Linked DNA regions of Homo sapiens: region 1 is linked to region 2. Evidence: fine-mapped expression QTL. Tissue or cell type: lung. Region 2 holds a variant in brackets; the other region holds the start of a gene. All regions are shown on one strand. Distances are from middle to middle.

Region 1 (8,107 bases), 320 kb before region 2:
GAGAGAAATACAGGTTCCTGCCAAATAATACCTGAAAGTCATATTCTGTGACGAAGGTGTTTTTTTTTTTTTTTTTTTTAAAGATACATACAGCTGCCTTTGTGGCATAGTAACTAAAATATAACTTCTACAGAAAAAAATATCATTTCCAAGACTATGGATTATACTTAATGAAAGTATTGTGTCCTGACCACCCTTCAGTGGTAGCCCCGGCATGCTTTATTTCAGAGCTCACAGATCATTTTGATAAGAAGCATATCATGCCAAAGTCACTCTCAGAGTCACACATAGAAAAGGAGCCAGATGTCACCACACTGGGAAATTAAAGTTATCATGCATCTTCAAAAATGATTCTTGTCCCTTAGACTAGGTAGAAATACGCATCTGACAGGCAACAGGGTCAGCATGTATCTTAATTGTCTTTATTCCCCCATAAGAACAGCCCTTACCTTGTGCTTCTGTCAGTGTCTTCAGTTAGCACCTAATAGAGCCACACTAAATTCCTTAACAGTCTCTCATACACACGTGGATTTTAAATTGTGGCAAGTATAGAGTTTTAATATCAGATAAGCTTAAAATTGAGGTTATTCTATTCATTTATGGTTGTTAAGATTCATGACAATTAGAACATAATTTAAACTCACCATTGTTTTTATAAAATAAAAAATATCAGCATCTGTAATAACTAGGTATCATAGATGAAGTAATCAATTCCCAGGAAAATGCAAATAATTATTTAATGTGTCTCTTAGCTGGTTACTTTACCTTTTAATTTGATCAGTTACATCTACATGGTTAACGTTTCCCCAAAAATTGAATCTTTAGCCGTTTGATTTGACTTTCCTATCAAGATAGCTGCCGGCAGGTGCCCTGGGAAATTCTCCCGCACGCCAGAAATCTCTTCGTAACAGAAATCAGTGTACAAAACCTGAATGCCCTTTCCCGCTTCAATTTTTGGCTATGAAAATTAAGGGACTTGACATATTCAAAATAACCAAGGTATGGAAATATTTGCTATAGGAGTTTTATTTTGAATTGCTAAAGTTAAGTTTATAGCAAATGAAGTCTTTCCCCAGATTTCCTTTTTCCCCCTAAATTGAATACTTTCTAAGCTAGCATGACTGACGCTTCCTGGCAAGGCAAGTGAATTTGGAGAAAGGCAACACTTTCCTCCTGTTTATATTTATAAAATGCATTATTGCGAACTATTACTCCACATTCTTCAACTCTAAATATTTAAATAGACTAATCAAAAAATATTGGGAAATGTGAACATTTCAAGTGTAAAGATGATGCTTCCTTTTTCCTCTTTTAAAAGTCATATTCATTATTCAATCCGGTGACTTTCTCAATATCAATGCCACTTTGTGTTGGCATTATCTTTGGAGGACACTAACAGGTCTGTTTCAAAATGATAATTTCAAACAACAAAGTGAATCGCAAGCGCACACTTAGCAGCTGAGAGGTAAATGAGAACCACAACATCACCTCCCTTCTGAAACCAAAGGCTCCAAAACCTTTTGAGGAAGTTGTGGGGGCCAATCCCTCCCAGTGGTCCTGACGTTCGGTCATAATGAATGACTGTTTGCTATTGACATTTATGCCTGCTGACTGTCTGGATAATTTCTATTATTGGAAGAGGCAATAAAGGACCTGGTGACGGTTCGAGGGCACACAGGAAACGGTCTGGTAGAAACTTATCTTAGGCCAATGCAAAGATGAAAATTCTTCAGGAAAGATGGACAACCCCAAACACACCTAACGTTGCCTCCTGCTTTCAAACAACTGGCAAAGCTGATCAATTCTAGCTGTGTTTTTCCAACCGTTCTTTATACTTCTACCTCACTTAAAAAAAATCAGCACATTTCAAATCATGATTAGAACTGAACTTTCTCCTGCAGGCTCACTAGGAACTGACAATAACACAGGTTCCTCTAGGAGAGAAGGGTCGGCATGAGAAGAATCTTTTAATTCTTCCTGGCATGCACACAGGCTACGATGGCACTGGGGGCATTGCTCTCATATTGGAGCGATTGCTAATTTTGCAAAATCCCCAGTGTGAAAGCCCTCCCTTGCTGTAGCATTGACTAACTTCAGCGCGGCCCAGCCCCAGGAATATCAGTAACAAGGCACAGCTGAGTTTGTCAGTGGCCGCTGTCAGCCGGCTGCTTTTCCTGCTTTCCTGGTTTGCGGTTTTTTTCTACCACTAACAAAATATGATGCTTCTTTCTGTTTTCCTGTATTCATTTCTGCTTATTTCTCCAAGGACGAGCCCTGTGTTCTCTTTACGACCCAATGTTTACAAATCGACGGGCACCACATTGAGTAAAAACTGCCAGCCAATTTGGAGAGGCGATCGCAGGGCTTCGCCTATCCCTTCCTCCGGGACAGTTTGGATGGGAGTAGCTGGCGCGAGGGCTCGTTCCCCCGTTTTTGGGTAATTCCTTTGGCACTGGGAGACGAGATGGCCTCCGGAGGGTGGAAGGCAGTGCCAGCCCGGCCGGCCACTGGGGACTGCGGGGCCCGGAGACGCGCGGGGTCCCCGGGGAGCTCCTCGCCGCCCTCGCCCCACTTCGTCCGGGTCCCTCAAACATGTCGCAGCGTGGCTGCTCACTGTCCCCTCTGGGCAAGAGGAGGCCCCAGACATTTCCACGGGATCTGAACTCCCGAGCGCCCTGCACGGAGCAGCCATCCCGCCAGCACCCCAAAGTGAAGCTGCTCACAACGGACAAGCCCGGAGACCCCATGAGAGGCCGGGGTGGAGAAGCCGGGGGTGAAGGGGGGCAGGGGCCGGCGCGCCACGCGGTCCTTACCTTTCCGCTTGGACCTCCGCCTCCTCCTCCTCTTGGACTTGCATTTGAGTTGACTGCTCAGCCCTCCAGACCCTCTGCCGCTCCCCAGGACCGAGGCCATGGCCGAGACCCAGGCGCGGAGCCCAGAGCCGCCTCCCTCCTGCACCTGCACCTGCCTCCTTCCCGGCAGCCGCCGCCGCCGCTGCTGCGAAGCTTGAGGTTGCAAACCCGGGAGCGGCTCACTTTTCAGGACTGAGCAGGAAAGCGCGCTCCGTCTCTCTGTCTCTCGAATTGTTCTCTATGACTTGCTCCCACTGGGCTGGGGGCCTCGGCTGGGCGCCTGGAGCGAGCTGCTCCCTGGTCAGGGAGGGCGGGGAAGGGCGCGCGGCGTCCTGAGTGCTCCGAGCTTCCCGCGGGCTCTGCCTCCTGCTCTGGGCTCCCAGCGCAGGGAGGCTACTTTTGCGCCTCTGCTAGTTGTTTGGCACCAGCCACTTTGAAGCCAATCACGCAGGGAGCTTGTCTATTTGCTGCAGCAGCGTCTAATTAGATCCAATCACAACTGCTTTCTGGCTCTGACATCAGCAGCAGCACCAGCCGCACCGCCGCCTGGCCGCTTGCAAACTCAGCTCCCGTTTGGACGGTGAAGCTCCCAGGACCGGCGGCTGGAGGGAGGCTGCTCCCGGGGAACAAGGACGCGGCGCGGGTGCGTCTGGGAGAGACCGGGGGAGCCTCCAGGAGGGACCCTGCCCGGGAGGACGAGGCCTCCTGCCGCAGCCTCGCGGACAGCTCAGCTCGCCCTGCTCAGAAAGACACAGGGACGGGTTTTTCCAACCAACAGTTTTTAACTAGTCAATTCATTACCATGCTCCTTGTGTCAAGGGGGGGAAATACCTCTTTCAGAAATGCAGAGACCGCACTTCCTCAGAAACGGACTGAGGTTTGCAATTCCCCAGGAGACAGCGTCCTGAGGGGCATTTATTCCTCAGAGCCTGCATGCTTGTCTGTTTGCCTCTTCTTTCCCCTCTTCATATTCCTTGGCCGTTTCCAATGCAAAAGATAAATCTTGCATAAAGACAGAGGTTTTGGGATCTGAGTCTGATTTTTGCCGTCAGGAATTTCATGTGTTGCTTTATTTAGGGAACAATGACACAAAAGGAAGAGAAAGCTCTCAGCGGAGAGTTTTGTTGCCAAATGTAATATTTGGATGGAAGAAAGTAACATTTACAAAGAGGTGGATTGCACACTGAAATAGTTTTAAGCAATTTTTTTTTCCAGGAATGTCCTATGTTTCAAGATTATACTTATGGAACCCTGGAAGTCTTATGTAAAATATAAAGAGGAATAGAATCTGGTAATCATCATTGCATCTTGTATTTAAATCACATAAGCTTTTAATTACAATAGTCATGTTTTTAAAAAAATCCACTCTAAAATTCATTAGCACACATTAACATGTTGATATAAAAATGGCACACAAATATTTCTGCTATTCATTGCCTCACATGCAACCTTTTCAGCTGCTTATGTGCCTAGAAATTTCCAGATAATTTTTATCATAAGAAAAAAGAATCACTCTGGGGGACATTGGAAATAATTAGGATGATCCTGTGTTGTTATGTGCTGAGCTGATAGATCGTAGCTCAGTTTTCATTGATGAGAGAGAGTAAGACATTTGATTTCAAATCTTAACTCTACTGCTATGACCTCGGGTAAGTTAAACCGTGCCTCAGTTTCCTCATCTGTAAACTGGGGATAACAACGTCACCCACCTCATAAGTTCATTCATACTCGTTGAATCAGTATCAACCAGTATAGACAGGAACTGGAACATGTTAATTACTCTATGATTATTTATTAAATTTTTTCCAGCAAATAATTTGGAAGGAATGAGCGTATGTTGCAGACAAGCCTCAGAAAGACAGGGCTTCTGCGTTTTCCTTTTAGAATGTTGAACCTTCTAGTCCAACTCAGACTGAGGACCACAATCAAACCAACATCCCTCTTCAGGGCTGGCTTCAACAACCCTGTTCCCATGACAGCACAGCTCAGCTCTGCTGATAATTCCCAGCGAGGGTTGAGAAGGCACATAGCTCTCTCACTTCCTCTCTGCAATACCCGAGATATTTGAGTGCTTAAACTATATCGAGAAACACAGCTCTAGGACTCTGCCTGTGAAACTTCTGAGCTTCACACAATGTGCTGCACTAATCCAGAGTTGCCCTATTTCTGTATCTGCAGAAAACCCATCAGGGGGTGGAGTCACCGAAGGAAGGTGCTTCAGAAGAGCTTCACACACACACACAGCCCCCACAAGGTGGTCAGCATTTATTAATGGCCCCAATAGCTCCATCATCACACGGAGCAACCGTGCTGTCTGGGAGACTCGTATACATGAACCCTTGTTTCACTCCAAGGGCAGGTATGGTGGCCGGAAAGTAACGTGTCTGTTAAATGTTCTTCTGATGTTGGTGGAGTGGGGAAACAAAACTGAAAACTGTCTTTGAACACTTCATTTAGACCCTAATTTGAAAGTTACGATCGAAATTTTGGCAAACCTTTTTCTTGAAGTTCCTCCAATTGGTTCTTTTTTGTATAATTTATGAAAATGCTGTTTTCACAGATACTTGCTGTTTTCTGTATTTTATTTATTTTGCATAAGACGATGCATAATAGATGATGCTAGGGCGACGGCTAGGCGAGAAAGCCTTTGTTTCTCATCACAGAGGGGCTTTAAAGAAGAGGCTCGCAGCGACAAGTGCGTTAACTCCAGCGTGGTTTCCAGCACGTCTCACTCTGCTGTTGCAAGCAGGGCTGCGAGTGAGCAGTGCTGGTAAGCTGCCATTCCCCGATGAGCCTCCTCACCTCCTGCCTGTTTCCCACAGTGCCTCAGCGCAGCTTTGCAACGTGGTGGGATGAGCAGCAGTTGGAAGAGGCTTCAGGAGCAGGAGCCAATCTCGCCCGGTGCCCATCAGGAGATGTCGCTGTGGTGTCCCCAGCTACTTCATGCTCAGTCCCTGCTCTTCCCACAAAACAAAGCACCAGCAGAGAGGTTGCAAGGAGGAACAGGCAGCTACAAAGCCAACTGCAGCCCGGCATGAACCTATAGGGGTCGGGGGGAGACGGGTGAGGCATAGAAAGGAGCCCTTGGCTGGATAGAAGGGGCAGTGCTGCCTCCGCAGTGAGTCCCCACACCCAAATGGCATGTGTGTGCCAGGAGGAAGAGTTTTCTCAATCAAGGCCAGAAAGGGTCCTCTTGTTGGAGTTGCTTAAAGCTCCCCCAACTCACTGTTGCTCTCATCAGTCCTACAATGTTACAGGTCTCCTGTGTGATATTTTGCTTGTTTCTTCAATGTCTGTCTCTCCATAGATCACAAGCACCACAGGAGGCAAAACCACGTCTCTCTGTGGCTTTGCGGCTGTGCGGGCACTGACCTGGGACACAAGTGTCCTTGCAGGGCAGAGGCTGATATTTACCACTGGGGCAGTGCTTGCTCTGCTCAAGGTATGGTTCTGAGCTTAAATGTTATAGTGACTCTCAGTTAATGCACAAGACCTCGATGGCGGCAGGACTGAAACAATATTCATTTCAGAGGCTCAGACAACTTAGGTAACTTGCTAGAAGTCACACGGGTTACTAGTCAGGATTCACATTCAGCACATCCTAACTTCACAGTCTGGGGTTGTTACCACTACGCCCTGCTGGTATTTTATCCTGCAGCCTGAAATTGGTAGATTTTGTGAACTTCTACAAGCCTTCTTGAGATAAGCAAAAAATACATTAAATAGTGACTCAAAGCTTCAGTAAGCCTATGTGTGTGCATAATATACACACATATAAACATATCAGAATTTTTCTTTCCTCAGAATGAACATACAATGTGGACAGAAAGACCTTATCATCCTCATTTTTCCCCTGAGGTTACGAAGGTGAAGTGTGAGGTCTGGATTCGTGTCATGTTGCCAGATAGCAGCAGAGCCATGACCCGAATGTAAGGTTCCAATACATTCCCGAAATAACAGCCATGAGAAATTTCATAGATTCACATAACTGCCCTGATCTTTTATTTCTGCAAAAGAGAGACCTAAGGCATCCTTCCTGCGGCTGACCACACAGCTTGCATCTTTTAACCCATATTCAGATCATCTTGTGCCCACTCCCGAATGTTTTCCTCTCAACTCCTTGACCTGTCTGAAGACATGGACAACTATTCTTTGCTTCAAAGTCCTGATGGTCAATACTGACTTACAATACTTCAGTTCTTAATGCATTGCAATGTCTTTCCAGATAGTTAAAGGGTTGGCTGACTTGATTTCTTATTGGTTTCCCGAAACAAATAACACTGACAAACAAACATGGTTTCTTTAGAATCAGAATTCTAGTTAATATCCCCTTCCCTCCATCAGACAATTTCACTAGGTGGAAAATAGCAGAATAAAGGATTCTCTGGAGATATTTGTGTTTGCTGACTCACTTTATCATCACATATGACACACAATTATGACTTTTTACAAGAAATAGCACAAGGGGACTTTTTTACTCTTTCATCTTCAGCCGTTGCTCTTAAGTCTAAATAACACACATCAAAGAACTTGGGCATGAGACCTGAAAGTATTTCCAAATAATATTGTGCAATATACCTGCTATGCCACATGCACGTGTATTCACATTCTCTTCAAAGGGCATGGAAGGAGGCTGGTGAAGGGGAGGGGGCAGCAGAGAAGTCCCAGGATGCAGAGGAGCATCTTGAATATGAAATGCTCTTTATCCTACACTTTTACCAGAGTAGTTTTTCCCTTTGTTCATTCTTTTTCTTGGAGGCATGCTTATGGTTTGAGAACAGCAAATGCACACTTAGCAATTTCCTGAATGAACTTGGTGTAAAGCAGGCGGGTGGATCACCTGAGGTCAGGAGTTCGAGACCATCCTGGCCAACATGGTGAAACCCCGTCACTCCTAAAAATACAAAAATTAGCGAGGTGTGGTGGTGCACACCTGTAGTCTCAGCTACTGGGGAGGCTGAGGCATGAGAATCACTTGAACCCAGGAGGCAGACATTGCAGAGAGCCAAGATTGCACCACTGCACTCCAGCCTGGGTGACAGAGTGAGACTCCATCTCAAAAAAATAATAAAAAATAAAATAAAATAAAAAGACAGTGCTTGGAAAATACAAGTGAAAAAAAAATCCTACATGCATAATCACAAGAACAGACTCCAAATTCTGCTTCTGTTGGTGCTATGGGTCTAACACATTGGGGAAGACATAACCCTTTCTGAACATCATCTGTAAAAGGAGGGAAAATGATGGCACAGAAC
Region 2 (8,107 bases):
GAATCATATAGGGATCTGACCCATTGTTATAGGAATGTGATCCTTCCATTTAGTTATTCATCCCAGAAATCACACACATCACTTCTGTTCATAACTTATCAACCAGGACCTAACTGCAAGGAAACCCAGATGTGTAGACTCCATGCGTAGGGAAGTTCCAGAAGTGTTAATATAATATGAAATAAAGGAGGGAACTGAGTAGATTTGTCAAAGTAACACTGCAGATCAGCAGGTAAAATATCATGCCGTAAATATTTGGTACAATTTGGTGGCTAAAGGCAAAATTAAGTAAAATTTTACATTTCTGACTTATACTTTATACCAAAATAAATTCAAAGATGATCAAAGGTGTAAAAAAAAAAGGCCCGATACATTTAGTGGAAGTAAAAAGAGGAATAATCCTTTTCATAATATTAATGTAACAAAAAAAATCTATAAATGGTAAGGCGGTTAAATTTGGCTGCACACAAATTTGGAATTTCAACATAGAAACACACATATATGCACATAGAGAGGGAAAAACAAGTGACACCTTATAGAGAAACATTTGTAATATTCTTCAGAGATAGAAGATTCATTTCCTTAACAGATAGAAGGTTCTTCCATGGCAATATATTCAACTGTGCGCATAACTCAACTCACTACAGAGGAATGAATGAGAAGCTTAAAAATCTTAAAGAAGAAAAAAAGAAAATGTCTCTAAAACACATAAACTGAAAATATTGCCTGTTTTTACAATCCAGTTTGCCAAGATCAAAACATTTTATTTTGTATTGTGTTTTCCACAGGTGGGGACACATGCGTTCTCTTCCATCATTAGTGGGGTTATAAATGGTGCCCTCTTTATAGGACATTTTGGCGGGTACCCTAATAACACACACTCTTGATTGAACAAATTTAGTATAGTAAGTTATCCTACTGACATATTTACATATATTAAAAAAAAGTAAATTACCCAAAGCCTGTGCACCATATCAAAATATTAGGAACTATGTACATTCTAGGATACTACACACTTCTCGTTTATCTCTCCTTCATCTCGGGTTTCTCCTTTCAATCTGATTTATTAATTCCTCGTCATCTTCTCAATGGTAAACTGTGCCAAAATCCAGCCCCAAGACTTCTTGTCTTCTTTCTTTCCTCCCATTCTTTTGAGGAGTCACCTACTATCATAAATAGTATGTAATGCTGATAAGTCTCCAAATTATATGTTCATCCTGGATTCTTCCCTGTACTCAAGGTTCATATATCCAACTGATTTCTCTTAATTTCCTGACGGGTCCCTCCATGATAGTTAGTCCTAAGTGAATTGCTGATATTTCCAACTCTGAAATATTTTTCAGTCTCAGAAAAATAGAACAATCTGGTCATGTACTTCCACATGAATGGATATTGTGCTGAGTGCAATAAAGCCAGCCACAAAAGAGCAAATAGCATATGGTCCCACTCTACGAACCACCTAAAGTCGTCAAAATCATAGAAATGGAAAGCAGTGAGGTGGTTGCCAAGGCCTGGGGGAAGTAGGGGGAATTATGGTTTACTGCAAGCCAAGTTTTGGTTGTGCAGGATGAAAAGGATCTGAAGCTCTGCTGTGCAGAGAGGGGAATGTACTGCACGCTGCTGATCGGTGCACTTAAAAACGGTTAAGATGGTATAAAGTGTGTCGTGCCTCTGCTCGATTTTAGTGATACAAAGATCACAAGGAATACATGCTCCCTTTTTATACGGCGTCCATAGAAAGATGGAGTAGGAGATAAATTGAACAAAGAAAAGTTAAGTGATTGCAATTCAGATAAGAACTATGGAGATGCAGAGAGTGTTATGAAAATTATCAACAGGGCACTTGACTTTGTGGCAAGTAGTCTGTATACACAATTACTTTATAAAGGCTTAAATGTATGAATTATTTATAAATGTCCAATATAGCTTTCTACTGTAATTGTTCAACAATATACTACATCATTACCTGCGCAGTTTGTATCAGATTGTGCTGCCATAAGAATTTGGTGAGGAAAGACATACAGAAAGACAATCGCAGTGCCTGACATGGGCTAGATCAGTAAAGAGTAGCTGTGATGTCTGGTACTATTGGTGGTTGCAGCCAGATGGTAGCAGCATATATTAAAATTATAATTTGTCTGGATGTTGAGAGCTGCAAAAACAACTATAACTCTTTTCCTAATCATGAACTATTTAATGAATTTTTCCCTGTGAAGAGCTTGGAACAGTGGCTGGCACATGACAACTATTACACTTATTACCCATGCTATTAACATTGTTACAATTATTATTACTATTGTTACAGGCATTCTTTAGGGAGAGACGTGTTTCTTGCCATTTCCAAACAACCAATAATTGCTTGTGGCTCTTTTTTAAGCAGTTTATCACAGGAAAATTCTGCATATGCTTCTGGTTTGCCCTGGCCGCGTCTCCATCTGTTACTCAGTTTCTCTCATGGATTCGCAACCCACATTCAACTGCCTTTTCAACTTGCAAAAGGGTCTTGTTTTTTGCATGACTCTTTATTTTTAATCATAAAAAGTAACCATTTTGTGTGCTCGTTTTTCTTTGTCCTACAAGGATATAGCGTACTAACCTTTATTCAGTGCTGAGTCATTTGACATTTGATTATTTTATTTATGGAACATCTCTCTTTTCGGGCACGGGACCACCAGCTGCTTAAAATCTTTGATATTGTCTTTGCCTCTGTCACCCTCACTAGAGGTTGAGTTCTTTGTGCCATTTTCTTTTACACAGACAGCAGGATGTTGTTTATCCAGTAGGCGTAAATATGCATGTGACATGGCCTGGGGTGGCGGGGGTCTCACCAGAATGCAGACCCTGGATGGTGAGTGAGGTTGGTTAACCACCAAAGAACGTATGCATTCAGACATCAACATAATTGTCCCTCCTATACCTGTGGTTTCTTGAGAATAGTCAAATTTGGAGATATGAATTTTTGAATCCCACGTACTTGTTTACTACTAAAGTACAGTAATGTTTATTCTAAATACTCAGCAAAATATGGCTTCCTTTTAACGCACATTTTGAGTTTCTGGGTCAAATCTCAGAAACCATTGATGTATTAGAGTTTAAGTTAGAAAATGCCACAACAAACAATAAATCAACTAATTAGAAATCACAGTCATGGCAAGAATGGCCAGAACATAGACAGGATGTTGCTATTT[C/A]TCCAACTGGGACAGAACATCTTGTTCGTCATCTTCCAACCTTTATGTCAGTTGGAAAATATTGATTTATGTTTCATCACTTTGTTTAATGATGTAAAAATAGAAAATATTTTAGATAAAAGATTATTTATGCATTATTTTTAGATTTTCTTCTTTCCCAAACATTAGAACATGTGATCGCTGAGGAACCCCATCCCCTAGAGAAAGCTTTGCCATGCATGAGATGAGATATATGCATTCAATAAGCAAATGAGCAAATGGCTAATTATCATTCATGGATCTATTTATCTCCATCAGAAAGTTGGGCCCTAAGAAACAGGTAGGATTGGTCGACAGGATGGTGGAGCTATGCCAGGTGGCAGAAAGAAGACGGTGTATGGCAGGGTGAGAAAGGTGTGTGCGTTTCTGGGAGAGAAGAGAAGAAGACAAGGTATCCCTGGATGATCAGAGTGAGGGAGCTGGCGGAATAGAGCATTTCCAAAAGCCTTTTCATTGCTTTTTTCTCACTATATGCAACATTTTACAACTTTTTAGGTGGCTTATGTTTATGGCCCAAATTGAAATGAACATGAGTAATAGCAAAATCCAACAAGAATTTCAAATTTAGTAATGTAGGAGGCAGAATAATTTTATTAGAAATTAAACACACACCAAAATAAAATATCTTGGCATGCGACAATGTTACTATGCATCACCAACATTAAAATCTGCCTTCTGCATTGTTGCTCTGAAGGTCTATATGACTCTTGAAAAATAGTTTATGCTTAATTCTGTGTTAATCTGAGAGAACGCCATTGCATTGATTTGCGACACCATCCATAAGGAACATAGATGTTTGCCTGACTCCAGCTTCCCAGAAGAATGGATTTGAGTACGACAGTCACATTTCTGAACAAAAATGATCTGTTGGGCTACATACATCATGACAAATAGTTCCTATACACCAGGTTGCAGATTTAAAATAAATTGACTGCTCGGTGATAAATTCCTGGAGTAGGAGAAGAGGTCAGTGCACATGAAAACACTGGCATAACCTCACCTACAGAGATACGGATGGTTCTCTACAGCTACAATTATTTCATAATGGGCAGGAGGGTTTATCAGGCTAAACAGACCATATGGTGAAATGAATCCTTAAATTGAAAACAGAAAGACATTTTTAAATTGTCAAAGAGGAGGTAAAGTCATCGACACATTTCTATAAAGCACAAGAGCAAAAAAATCTGAAAAGCTAAAATATGGCAAGGTAAAAAGCACACACGCACACACAGTTCAGGACCCTGCTGATGATAAAATTTGAAATTTAAAAAAGTACTTAACTTTTGACCTCCGTGGATTTAGCGCATGAGAAAATTAGAGAAATATGATTTCTGTGATGTTTTAAACCACGGTTCTGTCTAATTATGCATAGTGTTTTGGTCATGTTTTGATCGCCCCAAAGAAGAAAAAAAAATAGCTCGCTTGATTGGCAGACAGCACAAATAGATAAGAAAACTCGGTCGTTGCCACTAGACAAGGTTTGTTGCCAACGTGGGCGCCCCTCTGTAAGGACAATGGACTTTAAAAGACCATGTAAAAGTCGCATTAGGCTGTTGGTGAAGTTCAATCTAAAAGGGGATAAACATTCTAAATTCCTCGATTTTCTTTTTACTCTTAACTTCTTTTACTCTTAACTTAGAATACGAAGAGGAGAGCTCACTTGTTCATGATGTTGCCTTTACTCCTCTAATAAACACCTTACCTGCTGAGGGAAAGGACAGGTGTTTGTCAATCTTTTGTTTATTAGGAAATAAAAGACCCACGAGCCCCAACTGCATGAAAAATAGGGAACTGGCTTGAATATGGCATCTGCTCTCCTCTAATGTAATTTCTCCAGCTTAATTGCTTTCCGACAGCAATCTCTGGATTTTTCAGAAGCCTTCTGTCCAATATTTAGCCACAGAAGATTCTCCTAGACCTCTTTCTTGGTGACAAAAACAGAACATTTAAATTATATGGCTATACATAACATTTTTTATTTAAGCATTTACTATTTTATATGTGTGTGTCTCTGTCGACTTTAGGTATATTAATCATAACAGGCTGATGGTGGAAGGCCCAGAAATATCTTTGAATGTGCATCAGAAGTGAATCCCATTATCTTATCTAGAGCTTCATTAAATATACAAACCCATACAAAAGCAAACAACTCTGCTATTCCATCTCGATTTATGGAATTTGAAGTTTTTCTCTAGTACAAAGACTGCTTCCCATTAGAGTTTAGAAACTCAGAGAAATTGCAGAGAAAATTATAGTCATTTGGAGCCAAAACACGTGCCCATGTAATTAATTTGATGAAGAAATATATAGGGACTTTACTTCTATTTTTTTTTCTGTGAAGAGAGTAAAAAATATTAGATTAGAAAATAGCACTTCTTTTTCTTTAAAAAAAAGATTATACTTTAAGTTCTGAGGTACATGTGCAGAACCTGTAGGTATGTTACATAGGTATACATGTGCCATGGTGGCTTGCTGCACCCATGAACACGTCACCCACATTAGGTATTTCTCCTAATGTTATCCCTCCCGTAGCCCCCCACCCCCCGACAGGCCCCGGTGTGTGATGTTTCCTTCCTTACGTCCATGAAAAATTATACTTAGATCACATATGAAAATGGTACTATTTTTGACATGCTAGGTAAATAAAATATATTATTTGAAAAAAAAGAAAGAACAGCACTTCTGTGGGCACAGAAGAATTTAGATTAAAATCACATCTGCTTTTAGAAGGAGCTGGGCTCTTCTCAGAATTTAAATCTCTGTAAACAATCAAATCACTGTAGAGTTTTATCTTAGTCCTTTTTATTCTGTCCCAGATTTTATTTTTGAGTCAACTCAGCTGTATGCTGGATCATGCCTGTCCATTTCAGAATGTCGGAGAACAAAAAATCCGTGTTCCGAATTCCCTCTGATTTCAGGAACATTTGTACCCAATTATATTGGTTAGTTGACATTCTGTTTAATATTTTGATTTCAGGGAAAATCTCTCTCTTTGATAGTGTAGAACCAGTGATGTGGTAATTCATTTAGTCTCTTATAGTATCATCTCATATGATATGGGTAAAAATACTATCAAGAGTGATATTTTTAGGGCTAAATTATATTCCATTGTTTGTGTGTGTGTGTGTGCTATGCAAACATATGTGTGTATATGTATATATATCACAATTCATTTATCCATTCCTCTGCCAACAGACACTTTGGTAAGCACAACGTCTTGCCTATTACGAATAATGCTGCAATGAAAATGAAGGCGCAGATATATTTATTATTATTGTTATATTATTATTATATCTTATTATCAAGGTAGTGATTTTTGGGTAGACCAAAGGAAGGCAGTATTCTAAATAAAAAAAGCAACACAGAAGGAAAAGTACTGCATGATTTTACTTACGTGTGAAATCTAAAACAAAAGATAAAACTTAGGTATGTAGAAACAGGGAGTAGAATGGTGCTTACCAGATGCTGGGGCTGGGATATGAGCACAGATATATGTCAAAGCATAGAAAATGTAAACTATGTAGGATGAATATGTTTTAGGAACATAACGTACAGTGTGAGGACTACAGTTAATAATATTGTAGTCTGGACATTTGCTGAGAGTAGATTTTAGGTGTTTTTATGACACGTGTAAAAGGTAACTGTAGCAATCATTTCACAATGTACCTGTGTATCAAAGCAGCGTGATATGCACCTTAAAGAGATACAATATAAACTAGTGATAATTGCACCTTTGTACTGCTGGGAAACACACAAATACCCTCATAATCATAAAACTTGGAAACGTTGAAATAGAAGAATTTGTGGCTTTGTACGTGATAAAATGTCTTAAATGAGCCGTTGATGACTTCCATTGATTTATCTTGGTAATCTGGATGGTTCTTCCCAACACCTTCAGCTTAAATTTCTCTACCTCTAAACAGAGAGTTGATTGGTTTGAGCTTATGGTCAGGCATGGTTATACAATTGTGCTGTCATCTTACTTTTGCAATTACTATTACATTTGTGGTGGTTAATGCTGAGTGTCAACTTGATTGGATTGAATGATGCAAAGTATTGACGGTGGGTGTGTCTGTGAGGGTGTGTCCAAAGGAGATTAACATTTGAGTCAGTGGACTGGGAGAGGCAGACCCACCTCAATCTGGGTGGGTATCATCTAACTGCCAGTGCAGCTAGAATAAAGCAGGCAGGAGAAGATGGAAGAGCAGACTTGCTGAGTCTTCTGGCGTTCATCTTTCTCCCGTGCTGGATGCTTCCTGCTATAGAACATCATGCTCCAAGTTCTTCGGCTTTTGGACTCTCGGACTCACGCTAGTGATTTGCCAGGGGCTCTCGGGCCTTCGGCCACAGACAAGGCTGCACTGTTGGCTTCCCTAATTTTGGGGTTTTGGGACTTGGACTGATCCACCTACTGGCCTCCTTGCTCCTCAGCTTGCACACAGACTGTTTTGGGTCTTCACCCTGTGACCCTGTGAGCTTTTTTGTGAGTGCATAGGGAAAGCCCCACACACTTTAGGCAGAGGGTGCAGCTGCCTAATGTGTGAGCCGCAGGAACTGGAACGCTATCGACTTATGAATCTCTATAGTTTAAACTTAAATGTCAAGAGCAAGAACTGTGGAGTCAAACAATCCCAGGGTTAGATACCATCTCTGTTCTTTGCTACATATATATTCTCAAACCATTTCCTCCTCTTCTCCAATCTTCCCTCTCATTATCTTAAAATGGGCTAACATCCATTGCGCAGGGAAGATGCACAGACTCCAGCAGTGAACGTGGTGCAGGGAGCCCCTGGGGTGTCAGCAGAGCAGAGCTGGGGTGTCAGCAGAGGCAGTTATGCAGGTGCTGAGGGTAGCTGCAGAGCAGAACAGGAGGTTCCACC

Evidence for each region. PIP is the estimated chance that this variant, and not a neighbour inherited with it, causes the effect.
Region 1: ADARB2 starts here. The variant in region 2 is fine-mapped to the expression of ADARB2 in lung (GTEx, PIP above 0.99).

The regions. Positions count from the first base shown.
Region 1 is chr10:1,734,238-1,742,344 of GRCh38, forward strand. It overlaps ADARB2 (adenosine deaminase RNA specific B2 (inactive)), which reads right to left and starts at 3,288. Exons shown (of 10, transcript NM_018702.4): 1 at 2,814-3,288. The coding sequence starts at 2,913. RefSeq lists an enhancer at 2,620-3,216 and a silencer at 3,178-3,237.
Region 2 is chr10:2,049,834-2,057,940 of GRCh38, forward strand. No RefSeq gene overlaps it. Among named protein-coding and RNA genes, the nearest start is that of MIR6072, 22 kb to the right of the region's middle. The variant C/A (reference allele first, on the strand shown) is at 3,189.